2 separate regions of the Homo sapiens genome follow, and region 1 is linked to region 2. Evidence: fine-mapped expression QTL. Tissue or cell type: aorta. Region 2 holds a variant in brackets; the other region holds the start of a gene. All regions are shown on one strand. Distances are from middle to middle.

What was found. PIP is the estimated chance that this variant, and not a neighbour inherited with it, causes the effect.
Region 1: it holds the start of OXTR, and the variant in region 2 is fine-mapped to the expression of OXTR in aorta (GTEx, PIP above 0.99). The same link has a PIP of 0.9 or more in fibroblasts and tibial artery.

What each region holds. Positions count from the first base shown.
Region 1 is chr3:8,766,480-8,774,637 of GRCh38, forward strand. It overlaps OXTR (oxytocin receptor), which reads right to left and starts at 3,134. Exons shown (of 4, transcript NM_000916.4): 1 at 2,752-3,134; 2 at 2,017-2,112; 3 at 787-1,850. The coding sequence starts at 1,708. RefSeq lists enhancers at 586-1,257, 1,930-2,601, 3,249-3,298 and a silencer at 1,579-1,638.
Region 2 is chr3:8,847,978-8,856,172 of GRCh38, forward strand. LOC107984112 (a long non-coding RNA gene) reads right to left here. Exons shown (of 2, transcript XR_007095814.1): 1 at 4,902-8,195. Among named protein-coding and RNA genes, the nearest start is that of OXTR, 82 kb to the left of the region's middle. The variant A/C (reference allele first, on the strand shown) is at 3,885.

The DNA of each region.
Region 1 (8,158 bases), 82 kb before region 2:
ACAGAAATCACCCAGCCTCCCCCTCAAACTTGAATGTCCCCCTCAAGGCTTTCTTCTCTTTCCTCCAAGTGGAAGTGAAGTCTCAGTCCTGGGCGCTCTCCTCCCTAAGCCTGCCCACCACTCCTTGCAGTACTCACCTCTCTGCATGGAGACTCATCACCTCCACTCGATGAGGAGTTCAGGGATTTGTCTTCACCTCTCCCTTGGACTCCTCTGCCCCCCAACACCCCCTTCAACTACTAGGTGCTTGGTTGGACAAATTGCCACTCCTGCAAGGCTGTCCTTGTCCAAACCAGACTTCTTGGCTTCAGCTGGATTTCTTGAACTTAAAGTGGAAGTTCATCTTAACGTGAACTTAAAGTTGAAGGAGCTTGAGCTTGGCCAGGGGTTCCAAACTTACCTCCACCACCTCCTCCTAACCACGTGGGAAAGCAGATGGAGTCCCTTGAACCTGTTTCCACCACCACAGTAAACCATACAGCCCATATGCAGCCCAAGGACTGTGCTAAGGACTTTAACTGCATTTTCTCGTGGCATTCCCCTATGCCTGGTGACAGTTGGTACTTTTATCCTTATTGCCACCTTACAGAAGAGAAAGTGGAGGCTCAGGGAGGTTAATTGCCCTAAGTCACTTGGTCAAGGGATGACAGAGCAGTGACTCTGTGGGATTTCAAACCCGCTTATCCCCCAGGAAGTCCACAGACCCCTGGACATTCTGAGGCAGCAAGATAAGGGCCTCCCCCAGCCACCAGGCTCCCTCCTCCTGGGTCTCCCAGCCCTGGCTACCTTCCTTGGGCGCGTTGGCATCCCAGACGCTCCACATCTGCACGAAGAAGAAAGGCGTCCAGCACACGATGAAGGCCAGCACGATGATGAAAGTCATCTTGACCGTGCGGATCTTGGCCTTGGAGATGAGCTTGACGCTGCTGACACGCGCCAGGGCCACGCGCCCCCCATCGCCAGCCGCCGCGCCCTCTGGCGCCTCGGCCGCCGCCGCTGCAGCGGTCTTGAGCCGCAAGTTCTGCCAGATCTTGAAGCTGATAAGGCCGTAGCAGGCAGCGAGCACGATGACCGGCACGATGTAGACAGCTAGCGTGATCCATGTGATGTAGGCCTTGGGTCCCCAGGGCTGGATGAAGACGGCCCAGCAGTCGAAGACGCCGTCAGCCACCTCGCGCAGAGAGAAGATGTGCACCTGCGGCGCGCTGGCCACCAGGCAGCCGAGCCACGTGGCGAGCACTGCCAGGCGGTCGGTGCGGCGGCGCAGCGAGCGCAGCGGCTGGCAGATGGCCAGGCAGCGGTCCAGGGACATGAGCAGCAGCAGGTAGGTGGAGGCGAACATGCCCACCACCTGCAAGTACTTGACCAGGCGGCACAGCAGGTCGGGCCCGTAGAAGCGGAAGGTGATGTCCCACAGCAACTGCGGCAGCACCTGAAACACTGCCACCACCAGGTCGGCGATGCTTAGGTGCTTCATGAAGAAGAAGAGGCGCGAGTGCTTCTGGCGTGTGGTGCGCAGCGCCAGCAGCACACACGCGTTCCCGCTCAGCGCCAGGAGCAGGATGAGACACAGCACCGCCACCTCCACGCGCGCCAGGGCCTCGTTGCGCCGCGGGGGTCCGGCGGTGCGGTTGCCCTCGGCCCCCGGCGGCGCGGCGCTGGCGTTGGCTGCCTCGGCGCTCCAGTTGGCTGCGAGCGCGCCCTCCATGACCCTGGCGGCAGCGGTGCGCCCCGGCCTTCGAGCCCTTTACGGCTTGGCGCGGCTGGGCCGGATCCGGCGTGTCGGAGGGTGTAGGGGCGCCCGGGGCTCCACTCCTGGAGACTCCACGGACGGATCTGCTGGGTCCACCCTGAAACAAACCGGGAGGGCCGTGAGGAGACCGCCGCGTTTCTCTTCCGACGCGGGTAGGGCGTGCTTGTCCCATTCCCAGGAACCCAACTCATCTGAAACAACAGGGCACAACCGCCGGCCTCGGGTTGCTCAGCCGCCACCCCAGAAATCCCCGTTGGAGGTACCTCCTCTGAGCCACTGCAAATGAGCGGGAATCCTCTACCGGCCACAAGCCCAGAGCCCCCAGCGTGCCAGTTCCTCGGGATGTTCAGCGGCTTCCACTGGGGGAGAAGGGAGGGTCAAAATCAGCAACGTTCCTCCGGGAGTGGGAATCTAAAACCAAATCACCTCCCCGAGGGAATCTCCAAACTACCTACTCGCCCCAGGCTCCGACCCTCAGCATATCCACCTGCCGCGGGACCCCCAAACCAGCCCCTCTCCTAGTAAACATTAATTCAAGTACTTCCTCCGGAAATCCCCAAATAGCCACTTGCCTGGGAAACCCCAGCTCTGGTCCTTCCCCGTCTAACCCCCTTTTCTAAGACGGTCGGCCGTCACTCCCTGAACTTCCACAGCACCTGCTTCGGTGGAAACCCGGTTCTGCAGTCCCTGCTGGGGGAACCCCTGCCTCAAAGCCCAAGATGCCCAAGCGCTGTTCCCAGACCCTGGCATAGACACCTCCCGCGGGGCTCCTCCCCAGCCCGGCAGCCTCGAAAGTTCTGGAACCCCTGACTTGCGCTTTGGACCCAGATAATCAAGGACTCTGAGTCTCAATCCCGAGAAGTCACTTTACAATCTCTCGGAACACCCCGAGCTCCTCCAGGAACAAGGAGTGCGAGGCACCCCACCACCTCCACTCGGGTCCCGATGGCTCCACCGGCCCTAGCCATCCCGTCCACCCCTGCTTAGCACCCAGCTACCTGCACCGAGTCCGCAGGCGAACCTAAAGTTGACTCCCCCCGGGGAAGTTGCACGGCGACTGACGGCCCCAGTGACGCGTGCGCTCCCGGCCCGAGTTGGGATGGCCTGCCGGCTGCACCTAATGTGATGCTAAGCTGAGGTCTCTCACTGGAGCCTCGGTTGGAATCCCCTCGCCGCAGCCTGGCTGGTCGCTGGATGGGTACAGGAGGCGAGCGAGGAGCGCCTCCCAGGCTGCGCGCGCGGACAGCGTCTGGATGCGGCGCTGTGCGCTGGGGCTGAGGCTGCACTATCGCACGGGTCCGCTAGGGGGCGGGCGAGGCCAGCCGCGCAGACCCCTCCGGAGCGGAGCTGGTTCGCCCAGCGTTGGTCCCAGAGCCTTAACAAATGGGTTTATTTTGCAGTGGTTTAAAACTGCGAGAGGGAGGGAACTCGTCAATAACCCGCCCGTTTCTTCCTTTCTTGGTTTAGAAGCTCTTGACTCCGAGACACATAGGAGGCTTGAATAATAATGTTCTTCCCCGGGTAGATAGTGATGAAGTTACAAAAGCATTTAAACTGATTATTTCCCAAAAATGATGTTAATTTTCAGGCTTTTCTCTCCCCCCACACCTCCAGCTTGATGTAGCGGCTTTAGCAGTGAACTCAAATAAGTCTTTGCTTTGGAATACTTTTGTTCCTATTCCCGTTAATGAGGAATTAGAAATGGCCTCTATTCTAAGCAGTGCTGGGAGAGGCGTTATTTTTTCGGTAGTTTTAGAGGAAATTCTGAAGCACAACACTGTCTTCATTTAAAGTGATTCTGCTTGTCTGCGCCCAAGAGCCGTTTCTGCCTCCTTGTCGCGCTTCGGAATTAAAATTCTAAATGATGCCAAAGGAAGATAAAATGTTAAAGACAGCTTCTCAGCCTCCCTGCCCCTTCTCTATTCTAAAATCATTTTTTGAAGTAATTTACAGTGGCCAAGAATTAAGTCAGAAAAAAAGGCCAGGATTCAAAAATAAACAGGGCTCTTTAAAATGCATTAAATGTGTATTTCCTCCTGACATTTCACTTCTCCGTCTTTTTATTATGTGGAGAGACTTGAGTTAGCCAAGGACTGGGTTTCCTTAATCCACAATTACAGCCCCATGCCGAGATATCCCAGGGGCCAACCTTACAGCACCTGGATCCCAGGGTTCTAGCTGAGTAATCATTCCAGAATGGGGCTGGGAATCTTGACAGCATTGCCAAGGGGTGGCAGGCAGTATTAATCAATATTAGTCAATAGTACCTATCGGCCTCGAAAATTACAGATTAAAGTTACAGACGACTCAGGTGAGAATGAAGTGACCTTGGGCAAGCCCCTTCTCTTTGGGCCTCAGTCTCCTCATATGTAAAATGAGAGCACTGGTCAAGATAGCTAATGTCTGAGGTCCTGTCCCTCTGGTTTTCTGAAACTGTATAATCTGTGCAATCTGAGGGTTCAATCCTAGCAGGTAAAACACCCCTGCCTCACTCCACGGCTGGATGAAGGCAGATTTTTCCCTATGAGCCCCTGACCGGTGAATGTGAGAAGGAAAACACTGGCCTGTAGAACCAAGCCTGCCCTTCTTTCTCCTGGAAGACAGCTGCTTTCTAGGGAGCAAGTTTACTGAGCCACTTCACCAAGGACAGACTCTTCTACCCTTTGTAGGGAAGCCTGCCTACCTGTGTGGTCCTCGCGTAGCCCGTGAGACAGCCTAATTCTGGATTCACCTAACAGGGCTATTTAGTCTCATGCAAAAGGTAAATTCTCTAACTTAGTTTTAATCTAAACAACAACAATAACAACAACAGTAATAGTGTGATCCCCATTTCCTGTCTTTTGTTTTATTTCTCATTGTGTGCAGAAACCAGGCAGGAAATAGAGAGGTCCCCTTGAAAACTCCTAACAATGAATAAGACATGCTCCTTCACCTTTGAGCTTCGGCCAGGGAGAAAAACACATATTAGATTGGTGCAAAAGTAATTGTGGTTTTTGCTATTAAAAATAATGGCAAAAACTGCAATTACTTTTGCATCAACCTAATATTTGCAGTGTGACAACAATAAATGATGTTACAGAAGTGAGGACTGCTGGGGGCTGAGGTAATACTTGGGAGATCGTTTTACAAAGAGGTAGCTGGATTTCAGAGCTCCAGAATGAGTTCTCCAGGAAGCAAAGAAAAAAGGCATACTTCTCAGAGAGTGGTGCAGGGGAATCACTTTGGCGTTTTGGAGGAAGGACTAAAGATGAATTGCTTGGTGCCTAGCACATTGCCAGCACTTAATACATACAGTTGGCCCTCTATATCCCTGTATCTGTGAGTTCAGTGGATTCAAACAATCATGGATTGAAAATATTCAGGAAAAAAAATCCTCAAAGTTCCAAAAAGCAAAAATTGAATTTGTCATGTGCCACCTACAACACTGAATGCACACAAATGCAGTGACGAGTGACATTGCATTAGGTGTTACAAGTAATCTTGAGATGACTTAAAGTATGTGAGAGGATATGCACGTGTTATATGCAAATACTGCTTCATTTTATATCAGGGATTTGTGTACCTTGAAGGCTCCCGGAACCAATCCCCCATGGATACCAAGAGATAACTGTACTTATTGATGCTAAAGGAACTTCAAGGCCATGTAAAGGAGAATGGGTTTTATTCTGTAACCCAACATTCCCCAAAATATGGGATGGAATACTTTCTGATAGTGTTAAATGTGAATTTAATATTGAGTGATACTGAATAACAGGGAGGAAATTCAGTTCTCAGTTCTGCTTACTTTTGACGTCAGCAAAGAGAAAGTCTGATATAACAAAAATCATGAAGGTGCTAGTGTAAAGATGACTGAGGTTAGAAGGCATTGGTGGGGAAGGTGGGGTGCCTGGAAGGACTGCAAGCAAAACAACGTACTCAAATCTGTGCTTGGTGAGAGAATGCTGGTAGCCACAGGGAAGATGGGAAAGGAGATACTGGCATTATGAAGGCCTTGGAGATCCAGGCAAGAGATGCTGTAGGCATGGACAAAAGATGTGACATTACAGGGTGTCTTTCGGTCTTCCAAAGAAACAGAACCATTGGGATGTATATATGTAGAGAAAGAGATTCATTTAAGGAATTGGTTCATGTGTTATGGAGGCTGGCAAGTCCAAAATCTTCAGAGTGAGCTGACAGGCTGGAGACCCAGGGAAGAGCTGATTTTGCAGGTCAAGTCCAAAGGTCCTCTGCTGCGGAATTCCTTCTTGCTCAGGGAGGTCAGTCTTTTGTTCCATATAGACCTTCAACTGATTGGATAAGCCCACCAACGTTATGGTGGGTGATCTACTTTGTTCCAGATGTTAATCTCATCCAAAAATACCCTCACAGAAACATCCCGAATAATATTTGACCAAATATCTGGGCACCATGGCCCAGCCAAGCTGACACACAAAATGAACCATCACAGACAGAGATTCAGCAATCCCTGATTTACAAATGTCTTCATCTGTCTGAGTATCCGGGCATCTTTTTTTTTTTTTTATTTTAAGTTCTGGAGTTCATGTGCAGTATGTGCAGGTTTGTTACATAGGTAAATGTGTGCCATGGTGGTTTGCTGCACCTATCAACCCATCACCTAGGTATTAAGCTTAGCACATATTAGCTATTTTTCCTGATGCTCTCCCTCCCTCTGCCCCCGTGACAGGCCCCAGTGTGTATTGTTCCCCTCCCTGTGTCTGTGTTCTCATCATTCAGCTCCCACTTATAAGTCAGAACATGTGGTGTTTGGTTTTCTGTTCCTGTATTAGTTTGCTGAGGTTAATGGCTTCCAGCTCCATCCATCCTGCAAAGGACATGATCTTGTTCCTTTTTATGGCTGCATAGTATTCCATGGCATATATATCTATATATATCTATATATATATATATCTATATATATCTATATATATATAATCTATATATATCTATATATATATAATCTATATATATCTATATATATATAATCTATATATATCTATATCTATATAATCTATATATATCTATATAATCTATATATATATAATCTATATATATCTATATCTATATAATCTATATATATCTATATATAGATTATATAGATATAGATATATATATATATATCTCACATTTTTTTCTTTATCCAGTCTATCATTGATGGGCATTTGGGTTGATTTCATGTCTTTGCTATAGTGAATAGTGCTGCAGTGAACATACATGTGCAGGTATCTTTACAATAGAATGATTTATATTCCTTTGGGTATATACCCAGTAATGAGATTGCTGGGTAAAATGGTCTTTCTGGTTCTAGGTCTTTGAGGAATTGCCACTCCATCTTCCACAATGGTTGAACTAATTTGCATTACCACCAATAGTGTAAAAACATTCCTATTTCTCCAGATCCTTTACAGCATCAGTTGTTTCTTGACTTCTTAATAATCACCATTCTGACTGGCATGAGATGGTATCTTATTGTGGTTTTTATTTGCATTTCTCTAATGATCAGTGATGTTGACCTTTCTTTCATACGTTTGTTGGCCACATAAATGTCTTCTTTTGAGAAGTGTCTGTTCACGTCCTTTGCCCACTTTTTAATGGGGTTGTTTTTTTCTTGTATCCAAGCATCTTAAAGGTGGGGCCAATATTGTCTATACCTGTACTTCGAAAGGCCTAGGTCACTATAGAATAGGCACCTTTCAGGTATTTGTTAAATACAGAAGGATAAAAGGAAGGGGGAAAGGAGGGAAGAAATAAACATCTCCATGGGCAGAACCAGGCCCTCTGGGGAAGGTATCCTGCCCAGAGAATGACCTGTCCTGTACCCACTTCTGCCTCTGGGAACTGGGTCTGAGTTTTAGCATCTTGGGAATTTTCCAGCCCTGGCACATTTATTTCAACATGGATCCAAGCCCAAGCGGCCTTTGCTCTATTGTCAGAGTGGAAATGAGCTATAAACACATCCAACCTACCCCCTCCCTAACATCACCGCCTCCCCAGCCTGCCCCCAAATAACTTCTCAGCCTCTGCTTGGGCTCCTAGCTCCAGGAGGGGGGTCAGTGACATGCTCTCAGGCATAAAGGCTGAGAACACATTGTAGCAATCAGCCTGCTGCTGGCACACTTGATCTTCTTACATTTATAGCTCTGTGCGGATGCAGGCACATCAGGGCACATGGGCTGACCTGGGAAGTTCCTGAGGCCGTGCCAGGATGCTGTGTCAGGAGGCCACTGCTTATAGGTAGAACTTGCACGGATTCCTTCTAGCCTGTGTGATTTTGGACTTCCCAGCCTTTGTTTTCATTCCTGTGTTCCATGCAGGGTGGAGAAAGAGAGAAAAATGTGCTTTCCTATTGGAGAGAGCTCTGAATCTGCAGCAGTAAGTGCTTGCTAGCATCTGGATTTTACCACGTTT
Region 2 (8,195 bases):
ATGGTCATGCCTAAACCAGTTACTGCCAAAGGGAATGAAATTGCCATGCTGTCATGAAGGGCATGACCGTGTGAAGGGTAGATTAACCAAATGGAAGCAGAGTTCTATCAGAAAGGCAGAGGGGAATATATGGTATTAATGAAAGCATTGCTACACCTAGGTACCCCATACCTTGACATTACTCCCTTCCCCTACAACAAAAACCACATCCCTTACCTCTACCACTTCTAGATCTTTAGCACTTACCCCAACTGAATGACAGTCTCTTTTTAATGAGCCTGTTTTCCAGTCTATGCAGGCAGAAGAAATTCTCGTTAGGTGGGTCTTACTTGGGGAACATCACCACGTCTGTGAAGCTCACTGGGAACTCCTTCCTCAGTCAGGACCCCATCCTGTCCTGTGTCCCATATCACTGTCACACTTGCCATTGTCAGTCTCCTCTTTTAGTCAATTGTGTGTTTTTCATCTTCCCAAAACAAGACTGTGAGCTTCTATGGGACAGCCAATATGCCCAGTTCCTGTTCCAGTTCCCAGCATCTGGCTCTCTAGCTAGCACCCGATAGGTGCTCTGTATTTGTTTACTTGAAACCACCAGAGTTTTTTACACCAAGTGAGATCCAAGTACCCATCTAGCACACCCAACAAACAGTTTAAGGAAACATGAAATGTGTGCCTAGCTAGGTGGGAGGCTGTGCACTCCATTTGCCTTCTAGTTTCAAGCATGCGCAGAAAGAATCTGCATCCTTGACATGTTACTGAGCAGCACCATGGGTCACGTGGGCCACAGTGAGCATCCCCTGCAGCGTTTCCCCCAGTCCTCCCACTGGAAGAGGGCCAGAGTCATCCGACAGCAAATGTCCCAGAAACATATAGAGCATGCAGGAAAGGGGCCCATTCCTTAGCACTGACTTCATCTTTAAAACTAAGTATAAACCAGTTCCTGTTCACTCCTACTTAGTAAGAGCTGTCCTAACAGTATTCAGGATGCCCAGATCCTTTGCTTTAGAACTCCTCTCTCTTCTTGCACAGCCAGATGCATGTGAAGACAGCTCTCTTGCCTCCCTGTCTCTGCTTCTGCACTAAAGCCTGTAACACCTCCATGGTTCTCCACGTGACAGCAGGATCCTCTCAGTCTCCTGGCTGACCTCACTCATTCAAAAACGTTCTAGCTTGTCAACATTCTACAAATATAAGTGTTAAAGAAAACCAGAGCCAGACAGTAATTAGAGCCATAAAAGCAGATTTTACTCAGGAACTATTTCAATAGGAGAAATGAGCCCTCAGGACTCTTAGAACTCTTGAACCTTAGAACTGGACTCCATTCCAAATACAGCAAGGACAAGTGAGGATTTACAGCCCAGGAGTGGTCGTGGCGGGACGGTCAGTGAAAGGAAACATCAGGGGTAGGAGTGGATTCTGGCTAAACCTACTCAACATCTCACTGAAGGTAGGCCAGGATGATCAGATTCTGAGGGTGAAGGATAAAGAATTTGATCAGATACCAAGTATGAGGAATTCTCACTAAACTGACTTAGTAAGATTTCTGAAATTTTGTTTTTAATTGACAAACAATAATTGTATATATTTATAGGGTACAGTGTGGTGTTTTTATCTTTATTTATTTATTTTTTTTGAGACAGGATCTCGCTCTGTCACCCAGCTGCAGTGCAGCAGCACAATCTCAGCTCACTGCTGCCTCGATCTCTTGGGCCCCAGTGATCCTCCCACCTCAGTCACTCATGTAGCTGGGACCACAGGCGTGTGCCACCACAACCAGCATTTTTTTTTTTCCTTTGGAGAGATGGGGTCTTCCTATGTGGGTCAAGCTTGATGTTTTGATATATGTTTACATTGCAGAATGATTCCATCAAGCTAATTAACATATCCATCACCTCACATACTTAACATTTTTTGGGTTATGAAATTACTTAAAATCTACTCATTTAGCTTTTTTTTTTTTTTTTTGAGACAGTCTCACTATGTCACCCATGCTGGAGTGCAGTGGCATGATCATAGCTCACTCTAACTTCAGACTCCTGGGCTCAAGTGATCCTCTCACCTCAGCACCCTGAGTAGCTAGGACTACAGGCATGAGCCACCATACCTGGCTAACTTTTTTTTTTTTTTTTGGTAGAGCTGGGGGTCTTGCTATGTTGCCCAGGCTGGTCTCAAACTCCTGGCCTCAAGCAATCCTCCTGCCTTGGCCTTCTTGTAGCAATTTTGAAATACACAATACATTATTATTAACTATAGTCACTACTCTGTGTAATAGATCAGCAAAACTCATTTCTCTTATCTCACTGAAACTGCACACCCCTTGATCAATATCTCCCCATTCCTCAACCACCCACTCTTCCATCCTCTGGTGACCAATATTCTACTCTCTGCTTTTATGAGTTCAACTTTTCTAGGTTCCACATATAAACAGGGTCTTGCAGTATTTGTGTTTCTGTGACTGGCTTATTTCACTTAGCATAGTGTCTTCCAGGTTCATCCATGCTGTTGAAAACAACAGGATTGATTTCCTTCTCTCTTAAGCCTGAATAGTATATTCCATTGTGCATATATGCCACACTTTCCCTCCCTCCCTCCCTCCCTTCCTTCCTTCCTTTCTTCCTTCCTTCTCTTTCTTTCTTTCTCTTTCTTTCTTTTTGAGACAGAGTCTTGCTCTGTCGCCCAGGCTGGAGTGCTGTGGCCTCGGCTCACTGCAACCTCTGCCTCCTGGGTTCAAGCGATTCTCCTGCCTCAGCCTCCTGAGTATCTGATATTACAGGCACATGCCACCACACCTGGCTAATTTGTTATTTTTAGTAGAGATGGGGTTTCACCATGTGGCTCAAGCTGGTCTCAAACTCCTGACCTCGTGATCTGCCCACCTCAGCCTCCCAAAGTGCTGGGATTACAGGCATGAGCCACCACGCCCAGCCGCGCTTTTTTTTAACCATTCAAGGCAATATAGAGACAAACGCAAAAGCACAAATGTCCAGGCCTAGTTGAGAAGCAGGTTCAGAGGAGCCGGACTAAAGTTTGGTTCAAGAAGAGAGCATCTTTGTCAAAGGCAGCAGAACCAGATGCTTTAGGGATAATGTATAACCAAAACAGAAAAGAGGGAGACTTCCCTTTCCCTGGTTAGGTACTAAAGTAGCTCCAAATTGCATATTTCCAAAAAACTACCTAAATGGCTACTTATCTTGAGCTTTCCAGTTTGAAAAGAGCATGGAGTTTGAAGTCAGACAGATATGGGGTCAAATCCCAGCTCAGCCACTGATTAGCTCGTTGTGTGACCTTGTGCAGATCAAGTCCCCTCTCTGAGCTCCCGAGTCCTCATCTCTAAAATGGCAATCATGAAATTGATCTCACAGAGTTGCTATGAAGACTCAATTAAAAGAGAATGTCTACAAAGAACCAAGCATAAAATATGAGCTTCATCAAGAAGATTCACAACTCCTATTACCAGTAAAAAATGTAAAGCCCTAAGTAGTTTTCACACATAGGGCTCCTCTGCCCTGTACCAACAGCACGTATGGGGAGTGCAGGAGTCACAGAATGGCAGAGGTGGAACTGCTCTCAGGTATTAACTGAGCCCAGGGCTTCTCACCCCAGCTCAATCATCTAGGGTAGCTTCCGGATAACATCACCTCCCAGGTCCAACCATAGGCCAATTAAATCAGGATCTCTGGGGACAAAGTGCAGATGTCTGTGTTTTCCAAAATACAGGAATGAGTTCTGTTTGTTATGTAGATGGAGAGAGTATAGAAAGTTTTCATCCCCAGTGTTCCCTGGGTCCTTTCTCAGTCTCCTCTGGGTTCTGAGGTGCGGCACACTCCAAACCCTAACCTCAGGAAGCTCACAGTCTGGTTAGAAATTCCAGCACGCTCCTAAAA[A/C]TAGAACCAGTAGTCCCAGGCATGATGTTCATTCAGCAAACATCTGTGGTATGAAATTCAGCCCACATGGAAGCACTGAGGCCATGCACAGCCCTAGCTCGAGGCCATGCACAGCCCTAGCTCAAGGCCAGCAGGAGAAGGGACAAAAGCAAGATACCAGAATAAGATAAGATAGGTCTTTGGAATTGAAGCGTTTCCAAATGTGAAACTGACAGACACCCTAGAGGTCCTGGGCTCCAGATCCTTCATTTAAAGGGTACAAAAATTTGATTCCTAGAGGAAGTAACTGACATGCCCCATCTGCATAGCATGTTACTAGACAAAGTAGGACCTAGGGGGTCCTGAACTCTGCTCCAGAGACCTTCACTGAAACCCACTGCCCATGAACAACAAGAGCCAGCTGCTTTCATTCAGGGGTGTTGGAGGAAAGCACCATGAAGGAGGTGGGCAAGGACTGGGCTCTGGGGGAAGGACATAAGCAAAGGCATGGGTGCAGAACTCCCTTTGCACCTGGTTATCCAAGCGCCCTAATTCCTCACACCAGCCCTGTCAATTCTTCCACCCCGCCCTCCGCCACCTTCCCTGGCACAAGGCTCCTTCTTGCTGAAGTATTCACAGCTGGAGCCCTGGATTCTGGAGGGCACCTCAGCTGGGATTTCTACATTGCATTTTCAGGACTGTCCCACTGGGCCCCTCTGGGGGAAAGAGCAGGATGAGAGAAGACAGCCTCTGCACCAGAGAGGTCACCAAGCTAATTGGGCAGGTGCCCGGTGCCTCCCTTCCTTTCTGGAGCAGCTCTTCCAGGATCCTCTACAGAGACTCTTGTGGGGGTGGCATGAACAGCTCATTTGTTAGTAGCAGCAGCAACCAAGGCTGAGGGTGACATAGCATGGGATCTGAGACAGCGGAGGGAGGCAAAACGTGCCTTCCGTCACCACAGATACCCTCTGCCTGCTTATATCTGAGCCTGCCCTCCAGCCCCCACCCTGCTCCTTGGCTCCTCCTGAAGCCCCTTACCTGTCTCCATTTGTATCTATCCTTCCACTCGCAGGGGACCATGGGTCCTGGGCGTGCCATATGCCAGGTGCTGGAGATACAGAGAAAACAACAAGGTGGGATCCTTTGCCCTCCAGTAATCATGAATAAGTCAGAGAAAGAGATTTAATGAATATATATAAAAGACAAACAGCAGGCCAGGCCCTATGCTAAGCCCTTTTGTTTTTTTTTCAACTCACAGTGCTGAGAGGTAACGGGGTTTGTGCTGGACAGAATTCTAAGGTAGCCCCAAGATTCCCAGCTCCCGATGCACATGCTCTGTAAAATCTCCTCCCATTGGGTCCTCCCCAGCGGTCAGGCCCTGGGAACATGATGGGGAGTCACTTCCCTGACTGGGTTGTGTTATGTAAGACTCTGTCCTAGCAGGCTGGAGAGAGATTCTCCTGCTGGCTTTGCAGATGTGAGTAGCCGTGCTGGAAGAGGCCCACATGGCTAGGACTTGAGCATGGCCTCTAGGGGCTGAGATCAACCTCCAGCTGAGAGCCAGCAAGAATACAGGGACTCTGCCCCATAGACAAAAGGAACTGAATTCTGCCCACATCCCGAATGAGCTCAGAGGAGGACCCTATCCTCTAGATCACCATGGGGCCCCAGCCAACGCCTTGATGTTGCTTTGTGAGACCCTGAACGGGCAATCCAGCTCTGCTGTGCCCAGACTCTGAACTATAGAAACTGCGAAATAATAAAGGATTGTGAAACCACTGTGTTTGTGGCAATTTGTTATGCAGCAACAGAAAAATAATTCGGGGTGCTATTCAAAATATCCAAGAACTGGCAAGAAATGGGAACCAACCCATCAAAGAACACACAGGCAGTAAACAACTGTGGTGTGGGCAGAACATCAGTCTTGCAGGATGGTTTTGCCATTTTATAGATGTGAAAACTGACGTTCAGTGGAAATTGACTAGCCCGAGGCTTCATAGCTAATAGGAGGCAGAGGCAGATTCATTCCCAGGCCTTCTGGAAAGCAGTTCAGTGTAGCAGCTAAGAGGATAGGCTTTGGTAAAGCTGATGGAGGGCTTTGAATGCCACCCTTAGGGATGTGGACTTGATTTTCTAGGTAATGGCAAGGCACTAATAAAAGTCAGTAACATGCCAGGGTAGAATAGAATGATAAGATTGGCAGTGTGTGGAGGAAGACAGCTACGTGTGAGTTAGGAAAGAGTTCAGTCAGAGAAGCGGAACTGTTATGAGTGATACAGAATAAGGCATTTGACAAAAGGATTAGGCCTTATGCAATTGTAAGACCCGGTTAAGAAGACTATGTAGGGGAGGCTTCAGTGGGAGAATCACTTGAGGCCAGGAGTTCAAAACTACCCTGGGCAACATGGCAAGACCTCATCTCTAAAAACAAATGTAAAGAAGAGAAGTCTGGGCAAAACTGTGGTCCTTACTTCTGGTGTTGGGCCTGTAGGCATTACAGGTTGGCCAGGCTGGCAATCAGGAGGGAAATCAAGGTGTGAGGTGGAGGAGAGTAAGACAAACAGGGACCCAATAGGTGCCCTGCAACCCGAGAGGACAATTGTGGCTGAGCCCACAAGCTGCCCACTGGCTGGAGCCACAGCTGTCTTGAACTACATCCAACCTGGACGATACAAGAGACACTGGAGCACTTCACCACGGAGCTGCGCTCGCATCTGGCCCAGGACTAGGTGAAGTCTGAGTAGCAGGGCTGGAGGGAGCTGCAGGAGATATGGGCTTGGGTGCTGCCCATGTCAATGAGGCCAGGCAGCAGGACCGCAACAGCCATGACCAGTCACAGTGTTTGGCATCTTACGCTGGGCTTCAGAGCTTGAAAATTGCTGTTTCTTCATTTCACCTTCCGAATCTCATGTATATTCCTCTTTATAGCCAACCCTAAATGGAAGCATATTGGGAAGGCAACTGTGGGAAATGTAGCTCCCACTTAGCTAAGTTGACTCAGCCCCAATCAACTTCCATCTCAACAAAGAAAAAAGTCTGAAGCCAAGGGAATGACCTACCAGGGCTGGAATTTTGAAGTACAAAGTTTCTGTGGAAGGCCTTTTGTGGAGGATTTACAAAGACGTTGTGCCCCTTGGGATCTTGATCCCAAAACTGCCCACTCTTCACCCTGTCACATGCTGCCTCCTTACAGCCCCCCATCTCTGGCAGTGCCTAGAGTCCTTGGCTGTGGCCATAACGTTTCAGCAATCACAGTTTGCCATTCTGCTCGCAGATTTTAGAGTCTCCCTTGGCTGGTACCTTCCTCCCTTCTTCCACTCACACATTTTCTAAATGACCCCAAAAAGGTCACTCTGCAATCCTGATTGTCTAATCAGTGCTGGATCCCTCTGTAGTGTCCCCGATACATGCTCAGTTTGTTTGCCACCATTGATGGTGAACTCACTACCTGTTAAAGCTGCCTGCCTACTCCATTTTTGAATGGTGGAAATAGAAAGATATTGTTTATACTGAGGTGAAATACATCTCCCTGTAGCTGCCACCTATGGATCCAAATTTTACCATGAGGTGTAGTAAAAAAAGAAAAAAAAATCTAATTCCCCACATGTGGCAGTTAAAAAATTGGAATCAGAAAAACCTGAGCTCAGATGTTAGCCCTGCCACCCCTAGCTCTCTGAGTTAGCTCTGCCCATTCACTTCAGCATCCATTGGGGGATCCTGCCCATGGGAATTCATACTGTGGTAGAGTAACCGTGATTTTCCACTTCCCTGTGCTTCGATTTCCACATCTGTAAAATGGGGCCTTTGAGAATTTTTTTAAGCACATAATACACTTAGCACTATGCCTGGCACAAACTTAGAGCCCAGTAAGTACTAGCTTTTATTACTCAAACATAACAATGTCTCTAAGAACAGTCTTTCTAGGTTAAATATTTCCAGTTTATGTCATGGTCCTTAGCCCCCTCATCATTCCGGATTCCAAGTGCAGAGCATACACTCGGTGGGCCACAGTCTATCGAATGGGACTTGCCTTGCCTGCCCCATCCTAGCTGTACCAATTCCTGCCTCCCATCCGAGCAGTACCAATTTCCTGCAGGGCCTGACCCCAGTGACTGGAAGCCAGGAGTTCAAGACTAGCCTGGGCAACATGGCAAGACCTCATCTCTAAAAACAAATCTTTAAAGACTCAGAAGCTGGGAGCACCATGCAGCAGGAACTAGCTGTGCTGTTGCATCTAGTGGGAACAGGGAGGTGTCCGGGAAAGCTGAGAATAACTGTCCTGGGACTGAGCATGAGAGATGGCAGCAGCTGGTGCGGGTCTGGGTGGGGGCT